4 linked regions of the Homo sapiens genome follow. The protein of the gene in region 1 purifies or fractionates together with the protein of each later gene. This does not show direct contact. Each region holds a gene or a part of one and is shown on either strand. Other genes may lie near its edges.

What was found.
Region 2: the proteins of C20orf96 (region 1) and PRORP purify together in Homo sapiens (affinity purification with mass spectrometry; one large-scale study listed by BioGRID and IntAct). This does not show direct contact.
Region 3: the proteins of C20orf96 (region 1) and VWA8 purify together in Homo sapiens (affinity purification with mass spectrometry; one large-scale study listed by BioGRID and IntAct). This does not show direct contact.
Region 4: the proteins of C20orf96 (region 1) and PCCA purify together in Homo sapiens (affinity purification with mass spectrometry; one large-scale study listed by BioGRID and IntAct). This does not show direct contact.

Annotation. Positions count from the first base shown.
Region 1 is NC_000020.11:276,998-281,044, forward strand, and holds part of C20orf96 (uncharacterized protein C20orf96), read right to left. Parts: intron 2,334-4,047; coding exon 2,175-2,333; intron 1,433-2,174; coding exon 1,333-1,432; intron 387-1,332; coding exon 229-386; intron 149-228; coding exon 47-148; intron 1-46.
Region 2 is NC_000014.9:35,272,095-35,275,426, reverse strand, and holds part of PRORP (mitochondrial ribonuclease P catalytic subunit isoform 1 precursor), read right to left. Parts: intron 1,993-3,332; coding exon 1,861-1,992; 3' UTR 1-1,860.
Region 3 is NC_000013.11:41,688,520-41,692,566, forward strand, and holds part of VWA8 (von Willebrand factor A domain-containing protein 8 isoform a precursor), read right to left. Parts: intron 3,420-4,047; coding exon 3,355-3,419; intron 2,927-3,354; coding exon 2,801-2,926; intron 1,757-2,800; coding exon 1,647-1,756; intron 990-1,646; coding exon 835-989; intron 1-834. UniProt on the Homo sapiens protein: Exhibits ATPase activity in vitro.
Region 4 is NC_000013.11:100,091,636-100,095,682, reverse strand, and holds part of PCCA (propionyl-CoA carboxylase alpha chain, mitochondrial isoform a precursor), read right to left. Parts: intron 1-4,047. UniProt on the Homo sapiens protein: This is one of the 2 subunits of the biotin-dependent propionyl-CoA carboxylase (PCC), a mitochondrial enzyme involved in the catabolism of odd chain fatty acids, branched-chain amino acids isoleucine, threonine, methionine, and valine and other metabolites.

The sequences.
Region 1 (4,047 bases):
GGGTGAGACCTGGATCCCCGCTCCCACACAGCAACTGGCTACTCACCGCCACCACAGAACTCAGAATTTTTTTCTTCTTCTTCTGAATCTTGTCAGACAAGGATTCCAGGACCTTTCTGCGCATCTCACCGAGGTCATCCAGCTCATCCTGGGAGCCAGCAGAAGGGTGTTGGTCACCAGTCCTGCCTCCCACACAGTCTGGTGGGAGAGGGGCAGGGGCTCCCCTACCTGCTGGCTGTCCTTAACCTGCTGCAGCTGGCGCATAAGAGTGGAGATCTGGACAGACTTGATGGAATACTCATGGTCCATGTAAGTGCTCAGGAAGTTCACTTCCTCCTGGGTCTTCTCAATCTTGGCATTCAGCTGCTCTGCCTGCTGCTCAAGATCTGGGGAGGGGTTAGGGAGGTCAGCAGGGACAGGAGGCAAGACCTTCCCTCAAGCACCTGGGCCCCAGGAGGCCCAGGAGGCAAGGTCTCCTTGGCCAGTAACTGGGGTCTGGGCTGAGGTGAGCTCACACAGGGCTGGGAGGTGGTTAAAAGTTAAGGCTCTAGACGGTTTTCCACCCCTGCAGGAGAAGAGGCAATGCTGGGTAGGAAAAAGGAAGGGAATTGGTGCATGATCCCTAGACTAGTCCCCACTCTGCCACTGACTTGCCGGGTGGCTCTCGCCAAGACTGTCCCTCTCCAGACTTCAGTCTCCTCAGAGACACACTCAAGGAAGTGAGACCAGGCAGATGGGGTGACAGTGGCTCCCAAGACACAACCCATGGCAGGATTAAGACAAAGTCTATCCTGTCTTCCTCCAGAGAGACCCCCAATGTCTGGGGTTGACTGATCCACCACCCCTCTGCTCAGCAGGTGTGTAGTCTGCTCAGGGAAAAGGAACCACAGGCCAGGCAGGATGGAAGCCAGGAGACCCAGGTTCTAGCCCAGCCACTGACTCCCAGAAGGACCTTGGCAGGAAACAGAGCCAGGCTAGGATTGGATTCTGGCTCCTAGCTATATAACCTTCCACAAGCTACTGCACCTCTCTTAGCCTCGGTTTCCTCATCTGTAAAATGGGAGGACAGCTTCCCTGCCTCCAAGTAGTTGCAATGACTGAGTGTGTGCCTGTAACAATGCAGACATTGGTAGAGACCCAGATACGGGGCCTGGAAAGAGCTAAGTGTTGGGTAACTATGCTATTCGCTCTGTATCTTAGCATTCCCATCTGCCAAGAAGAGAGCCAATGGGGCTGAGGGTTTCTGAATGGCAAGTACAAGGTGAATGCTCTGCTGCTGACCTCCCCAAGGTGCCAGGGGGGAGGGTCAAGGAATTTGCCAGGGATTCTTACAGCTCATCTTGCATTTCTTCTTTTCTTCCCACTCCTGAAGCTCAGATTTCAATTGCTGCAGCCTCTTCTTGTTTGAGTACTCCAAGATGTCGATGATGGTCTGCGGGAGGGGTGGAGTCAACTCACCCACAGGCTCTGCTGGCTCTCAGAGGCGGCCACCCAGCACTTCCTCAGAGGAGTCCCCAGTCCCAACCTCACTCCCAGAAACCTGACCAGAGGCTAATCGGGACAGTAACAGTGTCCACCCATAGGGTTGTTGTAAGGACTATATAAAGACATACAGATCGCTTGCTATTACACGTAGAGGTGTTTGCAAATGCTGTTGGTGGTAGCAGCGACCTCTGTCGCACCGGTACAGTATGTGCCCGGTGAACCCCCTCTGGGACGGGTGCTATGGTGCCGCATTTCACAGAGCTCGGGGAGGCAAAGTTAACTAAAAGTCTCCCGGCCAGTGAGTGCTGGCGCGCTGGGATGAAACCCATCTCGGTCCTCTTGCAAAGCCCAGGTGAGGGGAGTGAAGGGTGAAGAAATGCGTCTTCCAGGTGGAGGAAGCACCACGTGCAGTGGGCGGGGAAAGGCAGGAGAGGGCGCGCGAGTGCGCGGAGGGAGGGCGGGACGGAGGGAGGGAGGGCGGGACGGAGGGAGGGAGGGAGGGACGGAGGGCGGGACGGCGGGAGGGCGGGACGGAGGGACGGAGGGAGGGCGGGACGGAGGGCGGGAGGGCGGGACGGAGGGAGGGAGGGAGGGAGGGACGGAGGGCGGGACGGAGGGACGGAGGGAGGGAGGGAGGGACGGAGGTTGGGACGGAGGGACGGAGGGCGGGCGGATGCCGCGGGTCTCACCGCCAGGGTGTCCTGCTGCTGCAGCAGGGCCCGCACGTGCAGGGTCGTGCTGTTCTCCATCTCCTGGATGGTCTCGATCAGCTCCCGGTTGAGCTTGCTGAGGAAGTTCTCACGGCTTCGGAGCTCTCGCAGAGCGGCCCTCCCGCTCCTGAGCGAGGTCTGCGGGCGGAGGGAAGAGCAGAGAGGCGGCGCTGCGCCCTGCCCGGCCTGAGCCCCCGAAAGCCCGTGGACCCGCCGCCCCGGCCCCGCCAGACGCCCGCCCCCGTGCGGCCTCCTGCTGGTAAACGCGGCCCAAGCTGGGCGGTTCCCCATTGTCTGCGCCGCCCGGGAGCTCCGGGACTCTCATCCGTTCGGAAACGCACGTGTACCCATCATCTCACATCCCTGAGGTGCGGGTGCATCTACAGTTGGTGGCGTGTCACCAACTAATCAACAAATATATTATTAGTGGGTAAATAAAGATGTGCCTTCATATCAATGGCTTCTCAGAATCAATGAAATATAGAAATAATAGTAAGGGCCGGGCGGGGTGGCTCACGTCTATAATCCCAGCACTTTGGGAGGCCAAGGTGGGCCGATCACGAGGTCAAGAGTTCGAGACCAGCCTGACCAACATGGTGAAACCCCGTCTCCACTAAAAATACAAAAATTAGCCGAGCGTGGTGGCGCGTGCCTGTAATGCCAGCTACTGGGGAGGCTGAGGCAGGAGAATCGCTTGAACCTGGGAGGCGGAGGTTGCAGTGAGCGAGATGGCGCCACTGCTCTCCAGCCTGGGCGACAGAGGAAGATTCCTGTCCCAATAATAATAATAATAATAAACGCCCCAGGTAGGTTAAGAAGGTGGCAGAGCGACCGCCATGTCTGGAGGAGAAGCAGGGGAGGCAAAATGGATGATAAACGTCAGCATTTCCGGGCAGGCCGCGGAGTCAATGAGTACTCTCATTTCACACAACAGCCCCCAGTGGAACAAGGAGGGTCTGAGGGTTAAGTGACTCGCCTAAGGTTACACCCAGCAGGTGCATAAAACCTACAGTAACAACAACAACAACAATTGTACTTCCCTAAGGTTACACCCAGCAGGTGCATAAAACCTACAGTAACAATAACAACAACAATTGTACTCCCCTAAGGTTACACCCAGCAGGTGCATAAAACCTACAGTAACAATAACAACAACAATTGTACTCCCCTAAGGTTACACCCAGCAGGTGCATAAAACCTACAGTAACAATAACAACAACAATTGCTGAGGGCCCTCTACATGCCAGGCCAGGTGCTGTGCCTTGCTCTGCAGGTGGCACATGGTATCTGTTCACCCTCCAACAGCTTTATGTTTACTAACTCTATTTTGCTGATAAATGGAGGCTCAGAGAGTTTAATGACTTGCCCAGTGTCACACAGTCAAGAAGTGGCAGGGCTGGAACTGGAAAGCCAGACTTCTGAATCCCAATGTCTGTCTTTCCGTTATGCTAAAACAAGAACTGAGTAGCCTTAAAACTGCAAGGCATGGCTGAACCACGTAGTGACTAAGACTTGGATGTTGAACCTAGACACACCTTGGTTCAAATCCCAGCTCAGCCACTTACCATCTAAGAGAATCTGGGCAAGTTAGTTAATGTCTCAGAGCCTCCTTATACTCATTCTAAAGGTAAGGAAACTAGTATCTGTTTTAGAGAACTGCCGTAAAATATAAATGAGATTGGACAGGTGCGGTGACTCACGCCTGTAATCCCAACACTTTGCGAGGCCCAGATGGGAGGATCACTCAAGGCCAGGAGTTCAAGACCAGCCTGGGCAACATAGTGAGACCTCATTTCTACAAAAAGTAAACAAAATTCGCTGGGTGTGGTGGTGTACACCTACAGTCCTAGCT
Region 2 (3,332 bases), on another chromosome or scaffold:
AGAGCTCTTTTGTCTTGGTGTGCAGTAATGTTGCATTCAGTAAATAGGTAAGAAGATAAAACGTCCCCTCCTTGGATTTTCCTAAATTGTTTCTCTGTGCATAATACATACCCTAATTATACACATGTATATGGTTTGATATAAAAGAGGTCATTGTTTATTTCATGTAAGTAATTATCTTTTCTTACCCTAACTTACTTTGAGGTATATTGTCATAAATGTAAATATATCAATTTAAAATGTTTAGTGTGAGGAATTTTAACTAATATATACATATAGCTATGTTACTATTACCCAAATCAATATAAGAAACTTTCCATCACCCCGAGAAAGTTCTCTCAAGTTCTCTCATATCCCTTTCCTCAGGCAATTACTATTCTGATTTTTATCACAATAGAGTAGTTTTTGCCTGTTCTTGCATATTGAATACAGTATGTATACGTAAAGAAAGAACTATCATGAAGGGGTGCAGACATGAATATTTTCAGCTGAAATCAAGGGCTAATAAACTGTAAGCTGGCTAGTGAGTGGAAAAAACAGAAATGTAACTATTAAAATATAATCACTTTGTTAAATTAAGTCAAACTTGATTAAGTGGAAAAAAATTGGCATATTTTAGAAAGCCCACATATACTGAATGATGAAATTAATAGTGTTCACAAAATGTTGAACCAATTTGGAAAAGAGATTATAGAATGAAGAAAAAACCATCATAGTCTAGAGAAGTGAGGCTGGGCACTGTGGCTCAAGTCTGCAATTCCAGCACTTTGTTTTGTTTTGAGACAAGGTCTCGCTCTGTCACCCAGGCTAGAGTGCAGTGGTGCAACGTTGGCTCATTGCAGCCTTGACCTCTGAGGCTCAAGCAATCCTCCTACCTCAGCCCCCAAAGTAGCTGGGACTATGTGTGCAAACTACCATGCCTGGCTAATTTTTAAATTTTTTGTAGAAATGAGATCTTACTATGTTGCCTAGGCTGGTCTTGAACTCCTAGACTCAAGTGATTCTCTCGCTTCAATCTCCCAAATTGCTGGGGATCGACTGAGGCCAGGGGTTGGAGACTAGTCTTGTCAACAGAGTGAGACAGCCATCTCTACAAAAAAAAAAAAAAAAATTAGCCAAGCCTGGTGATACATGCCTGTAGTCCCAATTACTCAGGAGGGCTGAGGTAGGAAGATTGCTTGAGCCTGGGAGTTTGAGGCTGCAGTGAACTGTGATCACGTCACTGCACTCCAGCCCTGGCGACAGAGTAAGTTGAGACTCTATTTCCAAAAAAAATAAGAAAAAGAGGAGTGAATGCCCCCTCTTCTCCAATCCAAATAATTGGATGATAAGTAATTAAAAACTGCTATGAATAGTAAGCCTTTAGTATCTTGGCCAGTTTATTACAGAGGACGATAAATGATTCCATGTGGATAGGGCATAACATACAGAGAATGAGACTATGCCAGAAATGGGAGGAGGCATTTGAAACAACATGAGTATCTCAGGGACAGATGGATTGATTCTGCTATTGGTAGGCCTGGAAGGCAAGGTCAGAAGTAGCAAAAAATGGATACCAAAAGCACTATTAGTCACCCAAGCTAAGTGGAATAGCTGGCCCAGTAGGAGAAATGCAGGTTTTGCTCTACACTAAGTTCTCCAACTCTTGATAAGCCTCCAAAAACAAATGTTAGGGGAAAAAAACGCAGCTGGTTATGAAAAGATATATCTCATTTCATTAAAAAATCAATGTCAATGCTGTTAATAGAATCCTTTTATCTTCAGGACAGAGGCAATGCCCTAAACAAACACCAGCTCAAGAGCCTCTGATGCCAACCTAGAGGGTACCCAAACACAAACTTAGCATAGAGGTAAGAATCTCTATGTCTTTTGGTGGAGGCAAAGCCATTTGGTTGGTACTTCACAGGAACATCTTTCTACCAAGTCTTCATCATATGGTATGTGCCACGAGTCTCCAGTTGTTTGCACCACTGTGTCATAGCTGAGAATACGCTGTTGAATTAAAAAGAGAACAAAACATTGAGAACAACACTAAAGGGCTACTTGGCCATTTCTCTTTCTGACACTTCTCAAGTTTGCTCCAGAAGAGTATTGATAATGGATTATCTCACTTAATAATGGATTTTCAAACAGCAGCAAACTCTGTGAAGATGAGCCCTAATATTAGGAGTTCCTTTTTTTGAGGGGTCTCATTTTTAAGTCTAAAGACTCTCTGTAGAAGCATTACATTTATGTAATACAGACGTTCTTTTGTTGGCTCTATCAGTTTTGTGTGTGAGAGTGAAAAATTTCAAATCCAGTCAGCCTTCCACAACTGCAGGTTCTGTATCCCTGGCAAACAACCACAGATTGAAAATATATGAAAACAAAACGAAACAAAACAAAACAACAACAACAACAAAAAACTGTGTTCTGAACATGTACAGACTTTTTTTCTTCTTGGCATTATTCCCTAAAAGATACAGAAACAACTATTTATATAGCATTTACATTGTATTAGGTATTATAAATAATCTAGATGATTCAAAGTACACAGGAGGATGTGTGTAGGTTATATGCAAATACTATGCCATTTTATATAAGGGACTTGAGCATTTGAGGATTTTAGTATCTGTGAGAGGTCCTGAAACCAATTCCTCATGGATACCAAGGGACAAATGTAAACAAAAGTAGAGAAATGCTATAATGAACTCTCATGTACTCATCACCTAGCTTCAGCCATTATCAATTCATCTCTAGTCTTATTTCATCCATACGCTGCCCTCCCATCTCAGATATGTAATTTCTTCTGTAATACTTCAGTATGTATCTCTAAGAAATAAGGTCTTATTTTATAAATGTAAGATCAATACCTTTATACCTTTATTATACTTAAGAATTAATAGTTCTTCAACTATATCTTGAATCACTATGGTATCATTTAATACCACATTTACTATAAATTTATTGTTTTGGATATTCTTATTTACTTACTTTTATAGAGACATGGTCTTACCATGTTGCCCAGGCTAGTCTTAAACTCCTAGGCTCAGGCAATCCTCCTGCTTCGGCCTCCCAAAGTGCTGGGATTACACAAGTGAGCCACTGCACCCAGCCTTTCTTACTTATTTTTAAATTGACGAATAACAATTATACATATTTATCATGTATAGCATGTTTTTGAAATATGCATACATTGTAGAATAGCTAAATTGAGCTCATTAACATGAGCATTACCTTATATACTTACAATTTTTGTGGTGAGAACATTTAAAATCTACTCTTAGCAATTTTCAATGATACAACACATTGTTATTATTAACTACAGTCATCATGGAACGTATTCCTCTTAT
Region 3 (4,047 bases), on another chromosome or scaffold:
TCTCCTTTATAGGTAATAGGAGATAACAGAAGGGCCCATCTAAGAGGAAAATCAATTGAGACAATTAGCCATTATACTATAACCTGGATGCTGCAAAGATATGATAAATCAGAGCAAAACTCAATGGAAAATAAATCTATCTTCATGACTGTTGAAAATTTTAATCTACAATAATGACAATCCAACAAATTTAACTTTACACAGGAACAAAAAACCAAATATCACATGTTCTCACAAGTGGGAGCGAAACATCGAGGACATACGGACACAAAGAAGGGAACAACAGATACTGACACCTACTTGAGGGTGGAGAGTGGGAGGAGGGTGAGGATCAAAAAACTACCTATCAGGTACTATGCTTATTATCTGGATGACCAAACCATCTGTACAACAAACTCCTGTGACATGCAATTTACCTATATAACAAACCTGCACACGTACACTTGAACCTAAAATAAAAGTTAATAAATAAATATATAGAATGTGTAGATGGAAAAATAATTAACTTTAAAAAATTATAGAAGACATGACAGAAAATTACCATCAGAAGGTTAAGCATTTAAACTGTATTACATGAACCCCCACATATGGAGAATACTCATTTCCCCCTACTAAATTCTATCATTGCATTACGCTTTCAATGTTAATTTTTGAAGTGTAATGAAACTATTTAGGTATAACATATTTTCTACTGACTGATTTGGAAGGAAGACTTGATCCAACATGTTTACCAGGAAATTATGTTTTTAATTACCCCTCAAACAGGCTTACAGATTATAGGTCAAACTAAGGGAAAGAAACATTTATCCGATAATTTAAAAAATGGGTGCTTACCATGAGATCTGGAAAACCAACAACTATTGTAGCATAATTTTTCTCATCTGAGAGAATTCTGTTGGGAGAGGCAATCTTTTGTTCCACAGCTGAACTTAGATGTTCAGATGATAGTTGATCACTGGAAATTTTATGAGGTATGCTGAACTCTGTTTCTGAAAAGTACAAACATTAGACACCATATGCTCCTGAAATGCTCCAGGAATTAATTTTTTGCAAGATTTTATTCTCAACAAGTCAAATGGAAAAGAACAAGTTAAAAAAGAGAAAACATTTTAAATTACATTCATGGGCTTTTGTTTGAAAAAATGCTGTTTTTATAATCAAGGCATCTTCCCAAAGTGATTTCAAGTATTTACAGAATTCAAAATTTTATTAGGAATAAATATTATAATTAATAGCTCCCTGTAGAAAAGATGTAAAAACTGACCCAACCAAGGGTTGGCAATGGTATGTTTTAGATTTTTTTCGTAAGTACTATTCATCCCCCAAAACTGTGATAAATTAAATAGAAATCCCAATAGTCTGCAGAAAAAAGATGTTATCCTAAATTAGACTTGCAACCTAAATGTATATAAAAATACTGATCTGTCAGTTAAAAAAATTCAAGGACAGAGCTTACAACAGTGAACTTCCTTATGACAATTTGAGATACTAGATTCTTATTTACTATTTCTGGTGTAGTGACTAAGTTTTTTCTTTTGGTGTAAACTTAACATAGGCTGGTGTTTTGTTCTTAAATGATTCTAGAAGACAGTATATGTACAAGCATGCACTCACACAGCCATAAACACAGATGACATAGTATTTACCTTGTGTAACTCCAAACCCTGTGCTGGGCGGCTCCTCTTTCAGCACATACAACTGGCAAACCCCACTACCCTCAGATTCGATGTGTGCAGGCTTAGTTAAAAGATATTTCCTGCAAACAAACAAAACATCTAGCTTAAGTGAAATTTTTCTTTTTCTAATAGTAATAAGGCCAGACTAAGAAAAATTAGATTCTCCTCAGTCTCTTTTTTATAGTTCCAGTATAATTTGCAGTTTTAGAGTTTCATCATGAATTAACAAATAACTTCTCAACACTGTGTTAAAGAGCAGTGCACAACAGCAATACAGTAATGAATGTGAGGCAAAAATCCAATGCTTCCTATAAGAGAAAGGGTTGTGGGGAGGGGAAGCAACTCTAATGGGGTGCACTCTTATTATCATGTAACCCTCTCTTGATAAAACTCTTTGATCAGCCAGGAAGGGGGAGTATGACTTCTGATTTGTGATCAGCTAGGAGATAGATGCCCTCACAACTGTAGTCTCCTTGATCTACTTATTTTTAACATTTCTAAAATATGGATGTATATATAGGCAGAAATCCTCTGCAATGAGATACTTCTGCTTGTCAGCAGAGGGGCAGAAAGAGTCTGCACTTAGCTAGTGGAGTTGTGCATGAGGGAAGGTGCTCAAAGTCGACACCGCCTTTCATCAAGAACTGCACAGTCCAATGGGTCAGATAACATAAACATAAACATAACCACATCCAAACCAGAATACACAAGATAAAAAGAGAAAGACACTTCTAAGGTGTGAACTCTGTGAATTTACAAAGAGGCAACAGCTCTAGGATAGAGACTGTGGCTCTTTGAAGGGAAAATCTACTTTGAAGTGTCTCCAGTTTAGCAAGAATACAGTGAATTCTCAATGTACAAATAGGAAAAAGCCCAAATAAATATGGATCATATGAAAAAGTCATGATTTTTTAACTGTTAATTTCAATGTCATTTTCTGAGAAGTGACATTTATTTTTTCTCCCCTCCTCAATTCTTATAAGTCTCATATATAGAGATGCTGCCAAACACAGAAATTGTTAAAGGACAGACACAGGAAAGACAGAACAGTAAAGATGTTGGATAATTCATAAATAAGATTGAGCTACAACATACTCCATGATACACTATATAAAGCCACTCACTGATTTGTTTTGCTCTCCACCAGAAGCCATTTGTCCTCTGCTACAAGGAAAACTGTCTTGAGGTTGATGGGAAGTGAGATGGTGTGAGTTCGCCCTTCTAGAACATCCAGCACAGTCAGGCTGTTCCTGGAAAAGAAGAAAACTGTATCTGAAAGGAAATGGTGAGGATAATGGTTGAGTAATCTGGCATAATCATTTCATGATACATTATGCAACCCATAAAAAGAATGTTTTAAGATTAAGTAATAATATAGAAAAATGTTAATTAAAAAAACAGATATGCAAAATTCTAAACTATGTCAGGGTGTGTATAAGTAAAAATAATGGAAAGTAGTAACCATTGCCATGTTAGTAGTGGCTATGTCATGGAATTGTGAGCACTAGCTTTTCTTATATCTGTTTCTCAATATTCTGCAATGTGGGCAAGTTACTTTATATTAAAACATTCATAATTTGGTTACATTCACTTTATAGTAAACAAGTATAATCAAAATAGGAAATAGAATGGGCCAAATAAGAACTCCAGTTTAAATCCTCTATAATAAAGAGCTCACCCTTTTTCTTTGTAGAACACCAGCCAGTTTTTGTGTGAAAATTCTTTACACATTTTATAAGTTTCCTAAAGACAAACAAAACAAGATATTCATATTAAATGTGTCAGATACAGTCATGTCCCTCTTTAGCTACTTCCCCTTAAATAAAATAAAGTTCTTCAACTAGTAAAACATGTAATTCTCAAACAAGCTATCTATTTATCTGCTCTAAGACTCTTATGGTAAAATGGATTAAACTATATATCAAAATTTACTGTGAACTTTGTACTAAAGCCTCTTCAGAATAAATTTTTAAAAACAACACCAAACATTGTTAAGAAATAACAGGCTATCTGATGATTAACCATGGAATTTACACCATAAAATAAACACATGGGAAACACTTTGTTTCTTATATTAGGATACATTTATGACATTAAAAAAAATCACTCTTTTCATAGTCTTTTAAGACCTAAGTATGTTGACTTGCAGGGCAGAGGGTAAACCTTATTTTAAATCCATTATTTTTTTCTGAATGGCAGAATAAATTCTCTTGTGTTGGCCTAAACTATTTACTTACTAGTTTAATTTAGTTAATAAACTAAAACACTTATTTGTCTAATGGAGGAAATTAGGTATCATACTCACAGTTTCATCATATAAATCCAAAACATAACTACATAACTGGAAAACAGGTTAAATTGACTCCATGAT
Region 4 (4,047 bases), on another chromosome or scaffold:
GCAATCTCCCCTCAGAGCTTTTGCCCTGGCACTCCTTGGTCTGCAATGCTAGGCCCCCATATAGTCACATGGCTGGCTGGCTCAGTTTCCTGTCCAAATGCCACATGCTCAGAAATGTCCCCCATGGTCTCATTAGGTAACATCCCCAACTCAGCACCACTACCACTCTCTATCCCATTAACCTATCTTTTTCCTTCGAGAGCACTTCTCACTCTCTGAACTTTTCTATTTATACGAGCACAGTCTCCTTACTCAAATGTAACCACAATGGGAGCAGAAACAGTCACAATTATATTCCCAGCTCTAAGTAGTGTCTGACACATACTACGTGTAGGTGAATTGAACGATAGCCCCTAAAATGATGTGTCCACGTCCTGGAACCTGTGATAAAGTGTCTTTGCCAATACAACAAAGTGAAGGATCTTGAGATGAAATCATCCTAGATCTTGTCATGGCCCTAAATCCAATGAAAAGTGTCTTTATAAAAGAATGAGAGGGAAAGACGCACAAGAAGGAGGAGGAGAAGGCAGCCATGTGAAGACAGAGGCAGAGACTGGAGTGATGCAGCCACAAGCCAAGGAATGAATGCAGCCACCAGAAGCTCAAAGAGGCAAGAAAGGATTCTCCCCTAGAGCCTTCAGGCGAAGCATGGCCCTGCTCATGCCTTGATTTCAGACTTCAGGCCTTTAGTACTGTGGGAGAATGAATTTGTTGTTTTAAGCCACCAGGTCCATGGTCATTTGTACAGCAGCTCTAGGAAACCAAAGGTTTCTTGAATAAATAATACCAAAGAGAGGGCAGGCACGGTGGCTCACATCTGTAATCCCAGCACTTTGGGAGGCCGAGGCAGGCGGATCAATTGAGGTCAAGAGTTCAAGACCAGCCAGGCCGACATGGTGAAACCCCGTCTCTACTAAAAATATAAAAATTAGCTGGGCATGGTGGCACATGCCTGTAATCCCAGCTACTCAGGAGGCTGAGGCAGGAGAATCACTTGAACCCCGGAGGCGGAGGTTGCCGTGAGCGGAGATCACACCACTGAACTCCAGCCTGGACAACATGAGACTCTATCTCAAAAACAAACAAACAATACCAAAGAGAGTATGCCACATGGATGCTGTATTAGGTTTTGTGAATGAAATCACAAAACTGTATCTTCCAACATTCTTTAAATTCACTTTTATTTTGATCTTATTAGGTTGATCCCATCAGTTTGTGGGGTTTTTTCTAACGAAAATGTCAATAGGCATTTAAAATAAAGAAACTAATTTTTGAAAGTTATGCAATATGCTTATCTTTCAAAAAATATAATTTTGCTTCAACTATTCAAGAGTGTTGTCAAAAGCAGTATTTTTTGTATATAACACTTTACCATGCTACTAAAATTATTCTCATTAAAGATCAAAGATCTTTTCAAATTCTTTCACCAATCTTTTTTTTTTTTTTTTTTTTTTGAGACAGATTTTCGCTCTTGTTGCCCAGGCTGGAGTGCAGTGGTGCAATCTCGGCTCACTGCAACCTCCACCTCCTGGGTTCAAGTGATTCTCCTGCCTCAGCCTCCCAAGTAGCTGAGATTACAGGCATGCGCCACCATGCCCGGCTAATTTTGTATTTTTAGTAGAGACGGGATTTCTCCATGTTGGTCAGGCTGGTCTTGAACTCCCGACCTCAGGTGATCTGCCTGCCTCGGCCTCCCAAAGTGCTGGGATTACAGGCATGAGCCATCGTGCCCAGACTTTTTTTTGAGACAGGGTCTTGCTGTGTCACCCAGGCTGTAGTACATTGGTGTGATCACAGCTCACTGCAGCCTTGACCTCCTGGGCTCAAGTGATCCTCCCTCCTCAGCCTCCCAAGTACCTAGAACCACAGGCACGTGCCACCACACCCAGCTAATTTTTATTTTATTTTATTTTATTTTGTAGAGATAGCCGGGGGTGGGGGTGGTATCATTATGTTGCCTAGGCTGGTCTCAAACTCCTGAGCTCAAGAAATCCTCCCACTTTGGCCTCCCAAAGGGTTGAGATTGCAGGCGTGAGCTACCACACCTGGCCTCATCAATCTTTTATTCCTTAGCCTCTCTGCACCTGGGACATAGTTAGGGAATATGTTTTAATTTCTTTTTCTCTCCTCTGTACGTGCCATAGTACCTGGAACTTAGAAAATGCTCCACAAACACTTTCTGAGTAAAGAGCTAGATCTCTAGACAAATGAATGAATGAATGCTAACTACTTCTTGAAATTTCTTTCCTAGGTTTGGTAACACTACACTACATTGGCTCCTCTCAAACCATACCTCTAACTCCTCTTGTCTCTTCTTCCTTCTTCCAAATCCTAATTTAGGGTTATAAAACGAAGCATTTATTCAATTAAATATTAACTGACTCACTATATCCGTCAGGGCTCACAGTTCTAACTCTAACTCTAGCCTCGTATCCCTGGCCCAAAAGCCAGCCACTGATACCCAGCACCTCAGCATGGCTCCTGCGGGCATCTAACTCCAGATACCTACAATGAAACACTATGTTTCCAGCCCCACCAAAAAAGTGTTTCTTCCCAAATTCCTTTTTCATCCTTGTTCTCCCACCTACATTTTTTAAAGTTTGGAATCATTTAAACAAATCCTTTTCCCTCACTCTTCATCAAAAATGTCACATCTTTTCCTCTTAGAAAAGGACTAGAGCAGTTTTTACCTCTGTTCTGAACCTCTCAGGAACAGAATAAAATCCAAATGGTAGATGTATAAATATATAAATGTCTATAAACATTTTTTTACACCAGAAACTAGTTTCTGTAATAATCTCAGAAATTTCTTTTCCCAAATGATTTGTCAGAAATTTATCAGCATGTTGGAAACATTAACCTCCAGGCAATTCTAAAGCATTCATATAAGCCTAAACATTCTTTTCCATATTTACTGATTACAAAAGAAAATAATGGATGTCAAGTAACACAGGGCTTAAACATTCAAATTTCATGAATGCATCACACAATGAGACCATGATTCAAATGAGACAATTTGTAATTAGAAAAGCAAGCTGAGGTGGGTGGATTGCTTGAGTTCAGGAGTTTGAGACCAGCCTGGGCAACATAGCAAAACCCCATCTCTACAAAAAATAAAAATTAAAATTAAAAAATAGCCAGGTGTGGTCGTACGTGCCTGTGGTCCCACCTACTTGGGAGGCTGAGATGGGAGGATGGCTTGAGCCCAGGAGGCAGAGGCTGCAGTAGGCCAAGATCATGCCACTGCACTCCAGCCTGGCCAACAGAGCCAGACCCCATCTCAAAAAAAAAAAAGGAAGAAAGAAAAGAAAGCCTTCAGAATCATATTATCTAAGGTTCAAATTCTACTTCAGCCAATTGTGCTTTTAAGCAACTACTTAACTGCCCTGAGCTTTGTTTCCTCTACTGTAAAATTGGGATTTTTTACCTAGTTGTTATAAGGATAAAAGATATATGAAAAATCACACCATTGGGCTCGGTGGCTCATGCCTGTAATTCCAAGCACTTTGGGAGGCCAAGGCAGTGGATCAAGAGGTCAGAAGATCGAGGTGGCCAACATGGTGAAACCCCATCTCTACTAAAATACAAAAAAAAATTAGCCGGTGGTGGTGGCGTGCGCCTGTAGTCCCAGCCACTTGGGAGGCTGAGGCAAGGGAATCACTTGAACCCAGGAGGTGGAGGTTACAGTGAGCTGAGATCGCGCCACTGCACTCCAGCCTGGCAACAGAGCGAGACCCCATCTCAAAAAAAAAGAAAAGCAAAGAAAAATCATGCAAGGCATATAAGAGTTCAATAATAACTATAGCAATTACCATAAAACCAACATCCTAGAGCCACTGAAAACATTTACGCAGAAGAAAAAACTAGGCATTAAAACAGAATGTGCTTAAAAAGCTGATACACAAAACAAATAAGACTAAAAGGTGAACTCTACATATACCCTAAAAATAAATAAACTCTGTTGACTGGCTAAAAGAATGGTCAGAATTCTCTAGACTAGACCCTAGAGTTAGCTGGCTGCTTTTCAACCAACCAAAAGGTTTGCAG